Linked DNA regions of Homo sapiens: regions 1, 2 and 4 are each reported to be linked to region 3. The links are microRNA targets in miRTarBase. Many come from high-throughput screens and were not tested one by one. Region 3 holds a microRNA gene; each other region holds the end of a gene's coding sequence.

Region 1 (4,252 bases), not on the chromosome of region 3:
GTGGAGGCAGAAGGAACAAAGAGCTCATTGAGTAGCACCTTCCTCAACCATGAGACTGACCTTGCGACCCCAGCACCTGCTGGGGAGGGAAGGGAAGGGACACAGAGCCTCTGGCTGCTGGAAAGGGGAAGGATTCACATTAGTGAATACGATCTCCCTTTAGCTATGGAAACTGCAGAGGATGCACTGTCTTGGCAAAGGAGGTCTAGAGCGGGCCAGAGCTCTGCAACAGGAGACCGCAGAGCGGGCTGGGCACCTGCGGCTGGGCATACAGGCTTAGTGCATGCTGAGGGTTTATGTCACCGAGAGGGGTGTCTTGGAACTCCTATGTCTATTCAGTGCTCCCTGCTGGTATTTATTATTTACTTCCTTGGGCAGGATTAGGGTCAGGCCTGCAAGCACTTGTTGGTCTAGCAAGCTACAGGAGGTTTTGTACCCTCAGGGGGAAGATGCATGTGCTGGGTGAGGCTGCCTTCAGCAGAATAATGACCACCCCTCGTCCAAATGAGAAGTGACATTTCAAAGCAGCAGCTTGCAAAAAACCCTCAGCTGCTGATCGCACACGTTCTTCCCTTAGAAAACACCCATCCGGCTGGAGGAAGAAGACGCGGAGCAAATAAATTCAGATGTTTTATTCTGTAAAGCACATATGCACATACTTCAAACACGGAAAATTAATCTGGAAGTGAATGCCATAACAGATCAGCTACTGACCATCATGCAGCAAGAGGTGAAATGGACCCACTGGCCCTCAGGACCCCACAGTGCCTGCAGGAAGGGTGAAAACCCAGGAAGCTGAAGCCCTACACGCTGCCGAGGAAAACGCAACAGACATGGCAGGTGCCTCACGACAAGAAACACTTACAAATAGAATCAAAACTGATTCAAGTCATACAGTGAAAGGACAAAAGGAAAAAGGAAAGAGATCAATATGATCCGAAACAATCGTTTTAAGAGTAAGTTGCTGACCTTCTGCTGGCCCTCCAGTCCGAGATGCCTGAGGGTGAGCTGGTGCTCCTGCACGGGGCCGCCCTGAACAGCAAGCGCACTCCGTCTGTTGCACACTTCGAATCCTGAGGTCCACCAGCAAACTCTGGCTGAGCATTGAGCCTGGGAAGTGCCCAGATGGTGACAGGTCCCCTGGGCTTCCCGAGACTCGCTGGAGTCTCTTCAGGTCCTAGGCCTCTTCGTCCAGGCCCCCAGGCCTCCTCTCTCCCCTCAGCCTTCCTTTATAAACCTGATTGACTCTGCGTTTCTGTAAGATCTTTAAGAATTACTTGCTTAGGTGAATGTTGGATTTTAAAGTGTGTGTCCTGGCCTTGGGACAAGCCATCTGTCCAGGCATTTTTGGCACTTCCTTTCCTCACATCTAACAGTGTTGCCCCTCCCCTAGCTACAGATTCCAGCCACTCTCTGTCATTAAAACAAGGGTAACTAATATTAGCAACAAGCTGGATTGAACGAACCAGTGAAATTGGCTTTTTCACTGTTTTTCTCCTTTGATACCACTCTGCCAGCTATAAATCTATCCCTATAACTCTGCTTCATTGGGATTTTATTAATTCAATAGCAGCTTAATCTAAAATCTGATGGTCCTAATGATAATGACGTTTCTAGAGCCAAGCCACATGGCTCTTTCTCAATCTTGTCTCTTAAGGGTCTCAAAGTCTCTAAGGAGAAAACTAAATTAACAAGTTAGCCATGCATCGTGTAAGCAACTCGTATCATACATAGAAACTGGATAGACAAGTACGATTACTGCACTTGAAACATACTAAAAGGAAAAAGAAAAATACTAACATATCAAGTTACTATGGTGATTATTTTAACAATCTTCAATAAAAGCACGCAACTGTTTTCTATTCAAAAATGCCTGGGATAAAATGTTCTAGGCCAATGTATTTCAGAATGCAGGAACTAATCCTAATTTAAAACAGACTACAAACCTAGAGTTAAGGAAAGGAAGCACTCATGGTCATGTCCAATGTTTTCATTGCCCTTCTGTTATAACACTGCCTGGGAGAACACAGAAGTTATTAGTGACAATGAGCTATTAAGGCAAAAAGTTATTTTAAAAAAACAGTAAGAATACAAGAAAGGACTGGAAAAGATAATGTATGGTTTTGCTTAAATGAATAAGGATTAGAAAGAAAAAGAAACAGGGACTAGACAATCAAACAAAATGGTGTAAGAGGGCCGAGAGCAGTGGCTGACGCCTGGAATCCCAGGATTTTGGGAGGCCGAGGTGAGAGGATCATTTGAAGCTAGGAGTTCCAGACCAGCCTGGGCAACAGAGGGAGACTCTGTCTCTACAAAAAAATTTTAAAATTAGCCAGGCGCGCTGGCACACGCCTGTAGTCCCAGCTACTCAGGAGGCTAAAGTGGGAGGATTGCTTGAGCCCAGGAGTTGGAGGCTGCACTGAGCTAAGCTCCAGCCTGAGGGACAGAGCAAGACCCTGCCTCCCCCCTCCAAAAAAAAAGAAAAAGAAAAAAAGTTATAAGAAAAATGCTTTCAGTTTTCCCTGATAAATGGCAAATCAGAATTGCATTCCTTCAAATTTTGCAGGCATCGTTTTCGTAATTTTACTGATCTACTAGTTGCCATTTCCTTCTGAAGATATGTTAGTAGCATGAAAATAAAAGCAAAACAAAAGGGAGAAAATCCACCCACTCTTTAAAAAAGAAAGAAGAAATCCTTTCCTATTAGATAGAATCATTATTCTTTCTTTCCATACTGTCATCTGCATTCCAGAAAGCAGAAGAGCAAACAGTCACTCTAACTCTAGAGCCATTTACATTTTGAAGCCCTTTTGAGTGAAGAGGCGCTTTAACTTTGATAACAGAAGGGAGGGACAAGAGTGGACGACAAGACAGTAGAACCTCCTATGCCAGCTCCAACAAGACCAGGTTCCTGGTCATCCATGTGGAAAATGAAACTTAGATCTTTACCATGTATGTGACTTAAATATTTAACTTTTTAGTCAGGATAAAAGCACAAGTCTGTCCTAACTAGAGTAGTATTAAAATGTGACTATTTTATTTTTTCTTCATAAAGGAAAACAAAAAACAAAAAAACAAAAACAAAACAAAAAAAACTTAAGGTATGTTTCCTGCAAGCAAAATGGAGAAAAAGGTATTATTGTTGTTACTATGATTATTAAGCCACAAACACATAAAATCCACAAAATGGATTGGTGGCTTTGGAAATGCAATACCGTATCAAAGGTGCAGACTGTTTCAAATGTTCTCTACATATTGGGCTGAAACAAGAACCAAACCAAACTTCAACCCCATCAGCGACGCAATGCTCCTGTGACCTTGGTGAAAACATCGTCGTGACCAGCTAGATCCAGGAATCCTTCTCTAGAGACACGTGGAAACGTCCCATCAGGTAGGTCCTCAAGTCCAAGGTGGGGTTGAAGGGCTCTGGCTGTACCCAGGGCAAAGCACGTGCATTATTGGACCAATTTCTGAATAGATTTTTATAAATATGTACAAATCAGTTACAGGCACTTGAAATGTCTTTGGCTGGAATAACCCAACATCGCAAGATAATGTATTCACAGAGCATCCAGGCCCAGGCTGGGTTCAGCAGGCAAGGATTATGGTTCTCTCAGTCTCTCTCAAAAAACAAGGAGCTGTGGAATTAGGCTTCAGCCAAAGCCACCTGGAAGACAGCAAGCCAGGGAAACCAGTCAAAAAAGGGAAGCCTAGGTAACTCAGCCCCTACCCAAAGACCAGGATGCCACACTAATTGCACATATCAACCAGACAGTGAAGTTACTAAATCCCTAAAAAGAAAATCTCACCTAGGAAGAAATTACTAGAAATCTCAAAGTCTCCTGCAAGACGCGGCCCATCTGGAACCACTGTGCGGAGACAGAATTAACTGGTTTTTGTTTTTTTGAGACACGGTCTCGCTCTGTTGTCCAGGCTGGAGTGCAGTGGTGCAATCGTAGGTTACTGCAGCTTCCAACTTCTGGGCTCAAGCAATTCTCCTTCCTCAACCTCCCCAGTAGCTGGGAATACAGGCATGCACCATTACATCTGGCTAATTTTTTAACTGTTAGTAGAGAAGGGTTCTCACTATGTTGCCCAGGCTGGTCTTGAACTCGTGGGCTCAAGTGATCCTTCTGCCTCAGCCTCCTAAAAGTCCTGGGATTACAGGTCCACCTAGCTGAGGTAACTGTCTTTAAACCTTGATAAGCATTCTGTTAGAAGACTTCTTATGCTGATGGAACTACAGAGGAGG
Region 2 (4,252 bases), not on the chromosome of region 3:
GGCGTACCACTGCGAGGGCCTTTGCGACTTCCCTTTGCGTTCGCACCTCGAGCCCACCAACCATGCCATCATTCAGACGCTGCTCAACTCCATGGCACCAGACGCGGCGCCGGCCTCCTGCTGTGTGCCAGCGCGCCTCAGCCCCATCAGCATCCTCTACATCGACGCCGCCAACAACGTTGTCTACAAGCAATACGAGGACATGGTGGTGGAGGCCTGCGGCTGCAGGTAGCGCGAGGGCCGGGGAGGGGGCAGCCACGCGGCCGAGGATCCCCAGCTGATGAGCAGCAGCGGGCCACCCTGTCACCGAGCGTGGGTGCATGTCCGATGTGACCCAGCACCCTCTCAGAGGAGGGAGAGCACACGTTCACACTCACACACACTCGTGCAGTCACGCACACATTTACCGGGGACAGCATGTGAAAGCCTTGGGAAGAGATGACCTGCCGGTACCGAATGTCAAAGCCCTGTGTATTTTGCAAACAGATAACCATGGCGCCCACTGCCCCCATTTAGGGAGAGGAAGGTGTTTGTGCTGATGTTGCAGTTAGAGGCACGAAAATCAGGTAGCAACAACGGGTTAGGAAATTCGAAGTTCCAGAATGGGAGAACCAAAGGGGTACTCGAGCATGCTTTATCTCACCCCCTTTTGTTTCTGGCCCGATGTGGGGCATCGCTTCCCTGGGGGGCTGAGCGCCGCGTGGTGCACTCCGTGACCCACTGCAAGGCTGTAATGCCCTTCCCGAGGGTTTGTGTTGCATGGGGCCGTTTACCCTGGAACTGCTGCAAAAAGCATCTTTCTTTTTTTAACTTTTAAAATTTAACGTGCCCCTGCTTCATTTTTGAAAGGGAAGTTTTGTCTGAAAGTAGCTGTTGTGGAGCTTCCCAGATTTCTGCAAAGGTCGGTACCGCCACCCCCCCCCCCCCCCCCGCCTTTTTTTTTTTTTTTTTTAATCAATTCCAATAGGAAATGTTATGGAAAGTGGAAAGGATATTTTTCTTTTAAACGGCTGAGTCTGATCTAACAGGATATTGGGGTGGGATAGGATCTGCCAGGTTCGGAAGCTCCCCAGTTGGTCAGGGGGAGGTGGGAGCCATGCCTCGGGTGGCTCAGGAGGAAGTTAGTGCAATGGCCCGGAATGGGGAAGGTGGGGCTGGGGGAGGGGAGCTACTGCTTTTCCTAGAGACCTGCCAGGAGGTTTTCCTAAGAAGCCAGGGAAGAGGCTCTCAGGGCTTGAAAGGCAAGGAGGTGTCCTGGGGCCCACTCCAGCCGAGGACTCCGGCTTGCCGGCCAGGTAGGCGGAAGCTCCCGGGGCCGACTCGGGCTTGTGCTAGTTATCAAGTAAGTCGGCCTCCGCTTTTTACCTGCTTTCGCTGTGTTGTTGCTGTAGTTGTTGGCAGTGTGATAGTAACGGGAAGTGAAGCCACTCAAAAATGCTTTTGTCAGACTTCAACTCACAACCCAGACCTTTAGAGCAGGGGGAAGGTCTGCCCCTTCCCCTCATCGGCTCCCTGGCTTGGCTGCTGTGCCCTTGGAAGGGCAGGGCCTTGGTGTGGGGGAGCAGAGGTGGAATATCCCCCAGTTCCCTTATTTGGCCCCAAAGGGTCTTATTGATGGGAGGATTTTCTAGGCATGTAAAAGTGAGTTCGAACATTCAGACTTCACTGTTTGATTTGATTTGTTTATGCCTGGGAATCCTTTGTGGCTTTTTGTCAATAGGCTGGGAGAGGGAACCTAGTTGGACTCCAGCTGTCCGGGGTGGGGGCTTCTTAGAACAGCCCCGCAGCCCTCTCGGTGCATCTGTGTGATGTTGTGTAGGACTTTCCCCTTCAGAGTCCTGGGGAGCATTATTTCCACCCTGTGTTGGATGCAGGACAATTCATACACATTTTGATTCTCAGTGATTACACTCTTGAGAGAGAGAAGACAGACTTACGATTTAGATACAGCTAATTTACTTAGGGGCCCTACCTGAATCGGTTTTCATCCTGTAAAATTCTCCCAAAAGAAAAAAAAATACACGTGTAAATTACTCTTAAAATTAAGATTCCCCCCTTCCTCCTATTATGTGAATTTATATTCTGTGGCTGTATGAGTAGCTATAAATAACCAGAACATGAACAGTCTCTTCAGGTTAAAAATTTTAAAAATATCCAAAAGTGGCTGCTCTGGTACAATTCCATCTTATTTTAGTGACTGGGCAAAGATGGTCCCTAAATTTGTGGATTTTGCCAGAGATGCCTCACTCTCGTTTTTAAAATGAAGCTTGTCATAATGAAGAATTATATATTAAAAAAAGCACTGAAGTGTTGAAAGTTGTAGTATTAGAAGGTTTAGAAAGGAAGTTAATGACAAAGTGCAGTTAAATGTTATTTTGAGGAAGGTCTGGGGTATTTAATATCTTTGGATAAAAGCAAACATTTTGATACTTTTTTAGTGACTAGTAAAAACAATTTTTTGGGCAGAAATGTCTTGATTTAGCCTGGCCTTTTTATAGTAGGGAAAAAAACTGTCAATTTCCCCTCTTTCCTTCTGATGACCTCCTTCTAACGAGATGTGTTGTGAGTGGTGTGGGAAGTAGGTACCTTCCTGCATCTTGAGTTCAGGTGGCACCCGGTGGGAGGGGTGTTGTCCTTGGACAGTGACTGTTCCTTCCATGGCCCCATACCCTCAGTGTGCTCTTTGTTTACTGGATAAAAGGAATGCTTCCCAGATTTCCTCTGGAGCAGGTGAAGCCCCCAGGGGCCACTCTGCCCAGCCCTCTGGCATCTCAGTCCATTCACTAGGTGAATGCAGAGGATCCATTTCACTTGTAAAAATGACAACAAAGGGCCAACACATGTGGGGCAGACGGCTTTTTGCTGCTAAGATGTGGTTTAACTAGCATTGCCAAGGTGTGGAGAAAAGCGTTCTGCCAGCACAGTTGGTAGTAGCACCCTGAGCTCTCTGTCTTCTAGGTAGCGGGGGACAGGCCTGGGTGACTGGCATGAACCCAGCTTCTCTGTTGCAACCCCCAGCTGGAATCTCCAGTCACCATGGATGGGAGAACTGACAGGCAGGGAGAAAGCATGTCAAGACTGTGAGGAAAGGCTGTCCCCTCAACCCCAACCTGAGGTCACCAAAGTCTCCCTCCTAAAGTAAACAGAATTTTCCATTTTGTAGGGAGAATTGTGCACTACTAGTTGACATCACTTGAACCAGGATTTCCTGCTAGTGAGTAGGATTTGGCATCCCTACTTAGGGAGCTCGGGACAGGCCAGCTGGGGCCCAACGGGGGCTGGTGCTGGGTCTGTCAAACACAATGATAGCCTGGTCACTGCTGCTTGAAACCAGGGCTTTCGTATTAAGGAGGATCACCCACACTGGCAGGCGGGCATTTCCACTGATTCCCAAACACACTTGCCTTGTTGAATTCTGACTTTCCAAACAGCCGCACTGGGTCTTCCAGAGAAGGTGGCAGGCTTTGCTGTGTTAGCTTGGGGAAGCCAGGCTTGAGCTGTGCTCAGTCATTGTATCCATGCTCCCCTTCACCATACCCTCCTGGCAACGATATGAGGTGTGGATTGTGTGATAGAAGAATCCAGACTCCACGAAGCCAAGGACAGTCACTTCTCCCTGGCAGCTCTCATGGTGTCGGCAGGAGTGGGCGCCTCACCTTGGGTACTGAAGAGAGTACCGATAATCCCGTGGATGGAACAGGAGGGAGTGTAATTCAATCCCTACACATTGTATATGCTGTTGGCAATTTCATTTAAACTCACAGCAGAAAACAACCAGGATTTGTAGACTGATTTTCTTCTTAGAGCAGGGAGAAAAATTACGTTCTTTCCAAGAGCAGCTCGTGCACAGATAAGGTCAGACTTTTCCTGTGCTTGAATCTGGTCTCCAGGAAATCCAGTGGCAGGAAGAGAGTGTCCTGAGGCTGCCTCTGGGGGCACAGAATCACTGGGCCTCGCTGATTCTCATGAGAACCTGTCATCTCAGTGAGACAGGCCTCCCACTGGCCCTCAGTGGGCCATAGGCCAAGAGGTCTGAGTCAGATCGCGCAGTGAGCTGGAGGGAGCGAGGCTCTGAAAGCAGCAGTCTAGCAGAGGGAGTTTGGGCCTGCGCTTACCCCTCAGAAAGTGTCTGGATTGGGAAGGGAAGAGAGGAAGCTGCCGAGCGAACCCAGCAGCCAAACTTTGGGTGAGTGGAAAGTAACTAGATCCCTCTGGTGGATGGTATATTTGAGCTGCACCAGAGTCAGAGCCC
Region 3 (4,514 bases):
GCATTCCAGCCTGTGCAACAGAGCAAGACACCAACTCAAAAAAAAAAAAAAAAAGGTAAGTACCAGAAGCGCTGGCCCTCCCCCCATTGCCTCTGCAGCCTGGCTGGGAGGCTCTGCCACCCCCACCTCAGAAAGGTTCCGTTCATGCCCCAGAGTGGCGGTCAGCTTCTCAGGGGACTCCTGGGGCTCCTGAGTACTCCCCAAGGCAGGGTCTCAGAGGGCTTCCTCTTGTTCCCAGGCCAGGAGGACCCTCATTCCCAGCCTGGCTGTCCACAGAAGCCACAGTGAGCCACTCCCCCATGGTGCCCCTCAGCCCCCACCTACCATTCACAGGACAACGGCCTCAGGACCGGGGGGCTGTGGCCAGGAGGCCTCCGTTTCTGGGACGCCTTCCAGCCCCGTCCTGGCCCCTGTGCTCCTTCCAATGCCCTCAGCAGGGTCTCAGTGGCTGGACCTGATACGTGGGCATGTCTTGGCAAGCCTGGACAGCCACCTTGGTGGGGTCTTGGCAGGAGCCCTGCCCATCTTCCTGGGGGAATTCATCCCTCTCCCTGCCCAGCAAGCCGCCCACCCTGCAGTACAGGTGAGGGCACACGGCCCAGCTCACCCAGCCCAGATCCCAGGGAGGGCATAGCCCTCAGAACCACAGCTCTTCTGGGGAAATGGGCACCATACTGGAGAGTGGGGCCTCTCCTTTCACAGCCCAGCAGGTGCTGTTAATTACACCGCAGCCTTGCAGGGACAGAGCTGGGCAGGGTACGAGCGCAGAGTGAGGCGGAGGGACGGAGCCAGGCGGGGTACGAGCGCAGAGTGAGGCAGAGCCTTTGGCTCCCTGGATCCAGCCGTGCCTGCATCCCCATTCTGCCGACACTGTCTGGAGTAACAGCTGCTGCTGCATGTCCGCACAGCACAGCGAGGTAATACCTGCTTTATCTGTGCAGCTTTAAAGCCCTATGTTCAGGTGTCCTGTGGAGAGTGACTCGAAGGCCTGCAAGAGACTCCCCAGCAGGGCCGACCTCCACCGTTCCCTAGGGGGCAGGGGGAGCAGCCGAGCTCGTTGGGGTGGGGGGCGTGGCTGCCCTTCCACATGTGGCCTGCGGCCCCCCGGCCGGAAGCACCCCACCCCTCTGCCTGCTGCCTGATCTTTCCCCTCGGACACCCCAGCTGCGGGCTGTGAGGGAGGTGGGAGGTGACTATCAGATGAGATTAGTGCTAGGCTTGGAGAGGAGGCGCAGCCTGGGGAGGCAGCCCCTGATAACCGGCCTGGGGGCCTCTCAGCCAGCTCATTGCTCCATTTGCTGGGCTCATTGGTGATAAAGGCTGTGGCCTTCAAAGACCTGGGCGTGGCCCTGCCGGCTGACGAGGACTCTGGCTGAAGGGTGGGGCCTCCCCGACTCCCGTTCAGGCCTCCTTTTAAGACAGCAGCCGACTGTCATTCTTTAAACAGGGCTGATGAGGGACCCCCTGTCCATTTTTCTTCAGTGGGAAGTCAAGACCGCAGTCCCACCCTGGCCATTGTGGAGGCCTGGAAGCTGCGGGGCCCCCGCCCAGGACAGACCAGTGCCCCCCACCCTCACAAGCCGTCCCTCTGGGCTCTCCCAACACTGCCGGCCGGTCCCAGGCTCTGGTCATCAGAAGGGTGGCCCCAGACCGGTGCCCAGCCCAGGCCCCCAACCGAGGCCCCAGGAGCCGTTTCATCCCCCCGTGTTTATGCATTTTTAACTAAGTTCCCCCAAGTCCACACGTGACTAATGTGACGTCCAACCACCGTGAACGAGAGGAGACCAGCACGACAGAGCTGCTTTGTCAAAATTTGTATTTATTGTCAAAACTTTACCACATCTCACACATTTAAATGAAATTAGCTCTACTGAAATTTCTGACCAGAAAATCAACTCATACCCATGATTACAAAAGTAATAAAGGTGTTAAGAAGCAACAGCCAGCCGGGCGCTGTGGCTCACGCCTGTAATCCCAGCACTTTGGGAGGCCGAGTGAGGTGGATCATGAGGTCAGGAGTTCAAGACCAGCCTAACAAGGTGAAACCCTATCTCTACTAAAAATAAAAAAATTAGCCGGGTATGGTGGCAGGCGCCTGTCGTTTCAGCTACTTGGGAGGCTGAGACAGGAAAGTCGCTTAAACCCGGGAGACAGAGGTTGTAGTGAGCCGAGATCGCGCCACTGCACTCCAGCCTGGGTGACAGAACGAGACTCCATCTCAAAAAAAAAAAAAAAAAAAAAAAGCAGCAGCAGCAAAAGTGCACAGACCCAGCGTGCACGCGTCTCCGCCACGCCTCACTCCCGTCTGCGCCTGGATCCACCGCCACCCGCTTGTATAAAAAGTGGGCCCCACACGGTGCAGCTTCGTAGTCTGCAAAGAAAATGTCCAAAGAATGAGTTGTGGATCCTCCCAGCCAGAGCCCAGATCCCAGGCACCCCGCCCCACTTCCCCCGACCACCAGGCGGCCCCAGAGCCCAGGTTGTCCCTCCCGCCACCTCCTGTAATGGGTCCACCCCCAACTCCGGTCAGACTGGTCACAGAGCACCGCCCAGCTCCAGCCCTCCTCTCTGCATCCTGGGTCCCAGCTCAGGGGCTGCAGAGATCAACCCAGGGCAGAGGCCTGGACCACGTCCTCCCCAGACACTTCCAGAACCCACACAAAAGCACACATCCACGTTTCCCTTGTTTTAGAATATTTGGCCCCTTTCTGCCCCAAGGATGTGGGGGTCAAAGCCCCGGGGCTCCCGGCCGAGGAGAAAGGAAGCAGGTGGAGTCCCAAGTCAGGAGGCAGGTGCTGCTGGAGCAGGTGCAGGTGCACTGGTGCAGGTGCCGCTGGGGAGGACCCGACCGCCCCGTTTTCCCATGCCCTATACCTCTTTAGGCCAGATCCTCAAAGAAGTATATGCATAGGAAAAAGGAACGGCGGGCGGCTCTGAGGCGGGCCGGCTCTTCAGCACTGGGAGGTGGCTGTCCTGGGGGAGGGTCCCGTGCCGGGCAGCAGGGAGAAGTCGGGACTGAGGCCTGGTGGGCACGGAGATCCTGTGGGAGTGAGGAGGGCAGAGCCAAGCCAGGGCCGAGTTCCCAGAGGCAGGCCTTGGGCCTCGTCTTACCTGTGGTCCAGCCTCCTGGGCCGCTGGCGCTGGGTAGCCCGTGAGCCTCGTGAGCCTGGGAGGAGCGGTGGAGAACTCTCTGAGCCGGGAGTTCTGCTGCTGCCGAGCGAGCTCCACATTTATGCGCAGGGGAGACCTTGGCCGCCGCTGTCACATGCAACCAGAGGGCTGCTCTGTGCCAAGGACCCCGTCGCACCCCCGCACCTGCCAGATTGGGGCACAAAGACCTGCTGTGAGAAGAGTGCTGAGCCAGGGCCCGCCGGGCGGGCGGGCGGCGAGGGCTGTGGGCCGGGGGCTGCTGGCCCGGGAGCTGGGATGGGGCCAGCCTGTCCCCCCGCCTCCTCCAACCCTTATCTCCCCACGCGCTTCTGCTTGCGTCAGGGGCCCGGAAAGCACACGTGAGCAAGAATCGCTTGTCCAGGGAAGGGGCCGACTCTCCTTCCTGGGCCTGCCCAGCTCAGCAATAAGCAGCACCTTGGGCTGCACCCGCAGCCTCCTGGCTCACAGGGACTCTCAGAACCCCCAGCCAGCGTGTCCAACACTGTCCTGGCCACTGGGAACCAGACCCCACCCCCAGGGTAGGTGGCCCTGCTTGGCCTGGGGCGGCCTCCACAGCTGGGGCTCCCTGAGGATTCACGGCATCAGGCGGACACTGGTCCAGTGAGGCCCAGAGCCTTCCCCGGGCCACAGAGCCCGCGAGCACGTGGAGAGGGGCCACGCTCTGCAGCCTTGGGGGCAAGAGTGCAGGGTCGGAGGGAGAGGGCCCCTCAGGGACAGCTGGCCAGACCCACAGCTGCCCACACAGAGCGAGACCACACAGGCAGGCAGACACCCTCTCCTAGGGCCAGGGAGCCCCCGGCCGAAGGGCCCAGGCAGGCAGCAGAACTCCTGCAGGTCTGGGGCTGTCCCTGTGTCCCAGGCTCAGGACACAAGGAAGAGGCCCAGAGGAGGCCAGGGCACAGGGCTTCCACAGGTGGCCAGGGACAGGGCTTCTGAACCCCAGCCAGCGGTCTCTCCCCAGGACGTAGGCAAGTGGAGGCTGGTGAAGGAACAAGGCTGAGGCCTCAGAGGCCTCTTCAGTGACCATGTCCTCGGGGAGACTCAACGTCGCTAGGCAGGCCCGTGCGGGCGCCTGGCCCCAGCACCTGTGATCTGTAGGGCCAGAGTCTCAGGACTGACCCGACGCAGCACCCACATGCGGCAGGGACACACAGAGACCCCCATAGACACACGTAGACACATATAGACTCACATAGACACACACAGAGACACACACAGACACACATAGACACACACAGAGACACAGACATGTAGACAGAGACACACTCAGACATGTAGACACACAGAGACACAGATGTACACAGAGACACACACAGACACGCACACAATGGACCCACACACCC
Region 4 (4,252 bases), not on the chromosome of region 3:
GGAGTTCAAGACCAGCCTGGCTAATATGGTGAAACCCTGTCACTAATAAAATTACAAAAATTAACCAGGCATGGTGGTGAACACAAAAATTAGCTGGGCATGGTGGCACGTGCCTGTAGTTCCAGCTACTCAAGAGGCTGAGGCAGGGGAATTGCTTGAACCTGGGAGGTGGAGGTTGCAGTGAGCTGAGATCATGCCACTGCACTCCAGCATGGGTGACAGAGACGCCGGCTCAAAAAAAAAAAAAAAAAAAAAAAAGTGAAAGGATGAATCCCCTCATGCGGGCAGAGCCTTCATGACCCAATCATTTCTTGAAGGTCCCACTTCTGAATACTGCCACATTGGGAATCAAGTTTCAACATGAGTTTTAGAGGGGACAAACATTCAAACCATAGCAATCACCTCACTGATGCATTAGAATTGCTCAGAGCTCCCTACACACATCGCCCTAGGCTGGGGGTGGTGGCTCATGCCTATTATCCTAACTTTGGAAGCCAAGGCAGGCAGATCGCTTGACCTCAGGAGTTCAAGACCAGTCTGGCCAATATGGTGAAACCCTGTCTCTACAAAAAAAAAAAAAAAAAAAAAAAAAAAAAAAAAAAAAAAGCTGGGCATGCTGGTTCACACCTCCCAGCTACTCAGGAGGCTGAGTTGGGAGGATTGTTTGAGCCCAGGGGGTCGAGGCTGCAATGAGCCGTGTTCATGACACTGCACTCCAGGTTGGGGGACAAAGTGAGACCATATCCGAATCAATACATATCACCCTGTTCACGACTGTCTTTGCTCAAGTTGATGCCCCCCCCAACAAATGCCCTTATTTGCCTACTGCACCCTTTGCCTGTAGGTTCTGACATATCAAAGTCCAGTTTATTATCCAGTTTCCTTGACTTCAAGCATTCATTCAATACTGAACACCTACCTGCTACCTACTGGGCAAAACAAACTTGCTTCCTGCTCTTGTAGACACGGTCGTAGGTTACTTTCACTAATCACCAAATGCTTTAAGAAAACACATAGGGTTGGGTGTGGTGGCTCACACCTGTATTCACAGCACTTTGGGAGGCTGAGGCAGGAGGGTAACTTGAATCCAGGAGCTTGAGACCAGTCTGGGCAACACAGCGAGACCTTGTCTCTATAAAAAATACAAAAAACAGGCCAGGCTTGGTGGCTCACGCCTGTAATCCCAGTACTTTGGGAGGCCAAGGTGGGCGGATCACGAGGTCAGTTCAAGACCAGCCTGGCCAACACAGTGAAACCCCATCTCTACTAAAAATACAAAAAATTAGCTGGGTGTGGTGGCGTGCATCTGTAATCCCAGCTACTAGGGAGGCTGAGGCAGGAGAATCACTTGAATCTGGGAGGTGGAGGTTGCAGTGAGCGGAGATTGCGCCACTGCACTCCAGCCAGGGCAACAGTGCAAAATTCCATCTCGAAAACAAAAACAAAAAACTAGCTGGGCAGGGTGGTGCATGCCTGTAGTCCCAGCTATTCCAGAGCCTGAGGTGGGAGGATTGCTGAGTCTGGGAAGTAGAGGTTGCAGTGAGCTGAGATCGTGCCACTGCACTCCAGCCTGGGTGACAGAGATGCCGTCTCAAAACCAACCAACCAAACCAAAAAACCACATAGGATGCTAAGTGGGAGTACAAGGGGAACTTAGATTAAGGGTCCGGAGAGGCATCTTTGAGGAAATATTTGGCTAAGGTCAGAAGGGAGTAGGGGTTAGCTGAGTAAAAGGGAGGGGGGCACAAGCATTCTAGAGGGATCAACATGTTAAAAATAAACCCAAAGCAGAAGCCAAAAGGAAAGCAGCAGTTGTGGAACTGAAAAGGAGCCTATGGCTGCAGTGCAGAGAAAGGGGTGGCCAAAAGCGCCCGGAAAGTGCTGTAGTCCTATGGCCATGGCCTTCCCCTGCCTTCCTGTGGTACCTCCAAGCTAGGCCTAGAACCCTTCCTTTGTGCATCCTCTGGGTTATACTGGAACCTTTTTTTGTGTGTGTGTGAGATGGAGTTTCACTCTTGCTGCCCAGGCTGGAGTGCAATGGCACGATCTCGGCTCACTGCAACCTCTGCCTCCTAGGTTCAAGCAATTCTCCTGTCTCAGCGTCCCGAGTAGCTGGGACTACAGGCGCACAGTGCCACCATGCCTGGTTAATTTTTGTATTTTTAGCAGTGACGGAGTTTTGCCATGTTGGCCAGCCTGATCTCGAACTCCTGGGCTCAAGTGATCCGCCTGCCTTGGCCTCCCAAAGTGCTAGGATTACAGGTGTGAGCCACCGCGCCCAGCCCATCTTTTTTTTTTTTTTTTGAGGCAGTCTTGCTCTGTCACCCAGGCTGGTGTGCAGTGGCGGGATCACTGTTCACTGCAGCCTCAATCTCCAAGGCTCAAGGGATCCTCCCATCTCAGCCTTCTGAGTAGCTGGGACTAAACTACAGGTGCATGCCACTATACCTGACTAGTTTTCATATTTTTCATAGAGATGGGTTTTTGCCATGTTGCCCAGGCCGGTCTTGAACTCCTGGGCTCAAGATCCGCCTGCCTGAGCCTCCCAAAGTGCTGGGATTACAGGCATGGGCTACTGTGCCCAGCCTCCACCATAACTGGAAGCTATCTCTTCAGTTCAAAATTAAAGTTGGACAGGAAGGAAAAAATAGTACGTTTCTAAAGATGACTTTGATCTATCTATAATGAAAGGTATGGGTGGTTTTGAATTCCTTCCAGTGGTAATAAGAGGACAAAGTACTTAACCAATCCCACTACCTCTGTTTTGAATCACAAATTCCTGGGTGACTAAAATAAATTCCTAGAGTTAAAGTTAAATGGGGAAGGTGACTACCAGAAAATAAACACCAACTTTATTAATATAATAGCAACAGAAAGAGTTTCCAATTTCTCAAAAGGAAAATAATATGAGACTAGTGGGCTATGATGATGCCTGTGAATAGCCAGCTACTGTACCCCACTGTAGCTGGACAAGTGTTAAACAAGTAAATGCCTTTCAAGAGGGCAGAGCCCTGCCCCCCCACCCCCCCCCCAAAAAAAACGGGAAATGCCTACATTTCTTGTTCTGATAGCTTCCCACCACACACCAAAGGTTCCTCAAGGACAGCTGCCACCAGAGCTGCTGCAAGAACATGTTTTTCACTGGGCGTCGCTTCACAGTCAGTTCCTCAAGCAGAAGACTAAAATATTATTTCTTTTTAGAAGATCTTGGTTGAGGGAGAACATACCAATATGGAGAACAGATCTTTGCTTCTCGAATTCAAGAAAAACCATTAACTAATCTATCAAGTTTTCTCCGATATGGTGTGCCAGAGTGCTCTGTGAAGAATCCTTTTCCATCCCTACCACGTGTCTGGGTGAAGGGAGAGGAGGGGGTGGCAAGCTGCCAGTACACTAGCAGGCACTCCTGGTGATGCTCTGGGCTCTGCTCCCTTTCTGCTGGTAGTAGTAGGCATGTTTTCTGGCAGCTGCAGCAGACTGATGTTGGGGGGAGGAAGGGGCCACCCACCAATCACCTCTTCTTGAAGCCGTATTTTTTGCGTTCATAGAAGAGGTCTGTCTTAGAGCTCCCCAGATTGACAATCTTTGGGCAGCCATCTCTCTGGAAAACAGAACAGAGAAGTTGTTAAGTCTTTGAGCCTGAACCAAGAGTGACTTAAGATAAAAAATTTAAGCCCAGTGTGGTAGCATGTGCCTTTAGTCCCAGCTACTACTCGAAGGCCGAGGCAGGAGGATTGCTGAAGCCCAGGAGTTCGAGACTAGTGGGCTATGATGATGCCTGTGAATAGCCAGCTACTGTACCCCACTGTAGGCAACATAGCGAGACCCCCATCTCTTGAAAAAAAAAAAATTGGTCACAGAGTTCAAATTCTCATCTTAGTATTTGAAGAACTCAATAAATGGGTTTGTAAATGTGTCCAAACACCAGTTATCTCCTTAATTGGGAGGCCCAGATCAGCACTGTTTCTTCCCTATCTCTTAGCACTTATGAAAGATCATTTATAGGCCGGGCACGGTGGCTCATGCCTGTAATCCCAGCACTTTGGGAGGCCGAGGCAGGTGGATCACCTGAGGTCAGAAGTTCGAGACCAGCCTGGCCAACATGGTAAAACCCCGTCTCTACTAAAAATACAAAAATTAGCCAGACGTGGTGGTGCGTGCCTGTAGTCCCAGCTACTCAGGAGGCTGAGGCAGGAGAATCGTTTGAACCCAGGAGGCGGAGGTAGCAGTGAGCTGAGATCACGCCACAGCA

Evidence for each region. The annotated mature microRNA hsa-miR-202-5p reads UUCCUAUGCAUAUACUUCUUUG and lies in region 3 at 2,893-2,914, opposite strand. An mRNA with a match to its seed (bases 2 to 7 or 8) in the 3' UTR can be bound and repressed. Matches are read on the target gene's strand: a 7mer-m8 pairs with bases 2 to 8, a 7mer-A1 pairs with bases 2 to 7 and ends in A, and an 8mer does both.
Region 1: the mRNA of TMEM248 is a reported target of hsa-miR-202-5p. Seed matches in the 3' UTR shown: 7mer-m8 at 2,882-2,888 and 7mer-A1 at 2,698-2,704.
Region 2: miRTarBase lists GDF7 as a target of hsa-miR-202-5p. Seed matches in the 3' UTR shown: 7mer-A1 at 964-970.
Region 4: the mRNA of PHF5A is a reported target of hsa-miR-202-5p. The part of its 3' UTR that is shown has no 7-base or 8-base seed match.

What each region holds. Positions count from the first base shown.
Region 1 is chr7:66,954,917-66,959,168 of GRCh38, reverse strand. TMEM248 (transmembrane protein 248) reads right to left here. Exons shown (of 7, transcript NM_017994.5): 7 at 618-3,667. The coding sequence ends at 3,647. Among named protein-coding and RNA genes, the nearest start is that of TMEM248, 36 kb to the right of the region's middle.
Region 2 is chr2:20,671,194-20,675,445 of GRCh38, forward strand. It overlaps GDF7 (growth differentiation factor 7), which reads left to right. Exons shown (of 2, transcript NM_182828.4): 2 at 1-4,252. The coding sequence ends at 232. Among named protein-coding and RNA genes, the nearest start is that of GDF7, 6.2 kb to the left of the region's middle.
Region 3 is chr10:133,244,680-133,249,193 of GRCh38, forward strand. It overlaps MIR202 (microRNA 202), which reads right to left and starts at 2,941; the gene lies at 2,832-2,941. It overlaps MIR202HG (MIR202 host gene), which reads right to left and starts at 3,206. Exons shown (of 2, transcript NR_108079.1): 1 at 3,112-3,206; 2 at 1,800-2,371. RefSeq lists enhancers at 1-830, 162-1,014, 2,583-3,097, 3,614-4,128 and a silencer at 2,378-2,497.
Region 4 is chr22:41,456,887-41,461,138 of GRCh38, forward strand. PHF5A (PHD finger protein 5A) reads right to left here. Exons shown (of 4, transcript NM_032758.4): 4 at 2,831-3,601. The coding sequence ends at 3,512. Among named protein-coding and RNA genes, the nearest start is that of PHF5A, 9.7 kb to the right of the region's middle.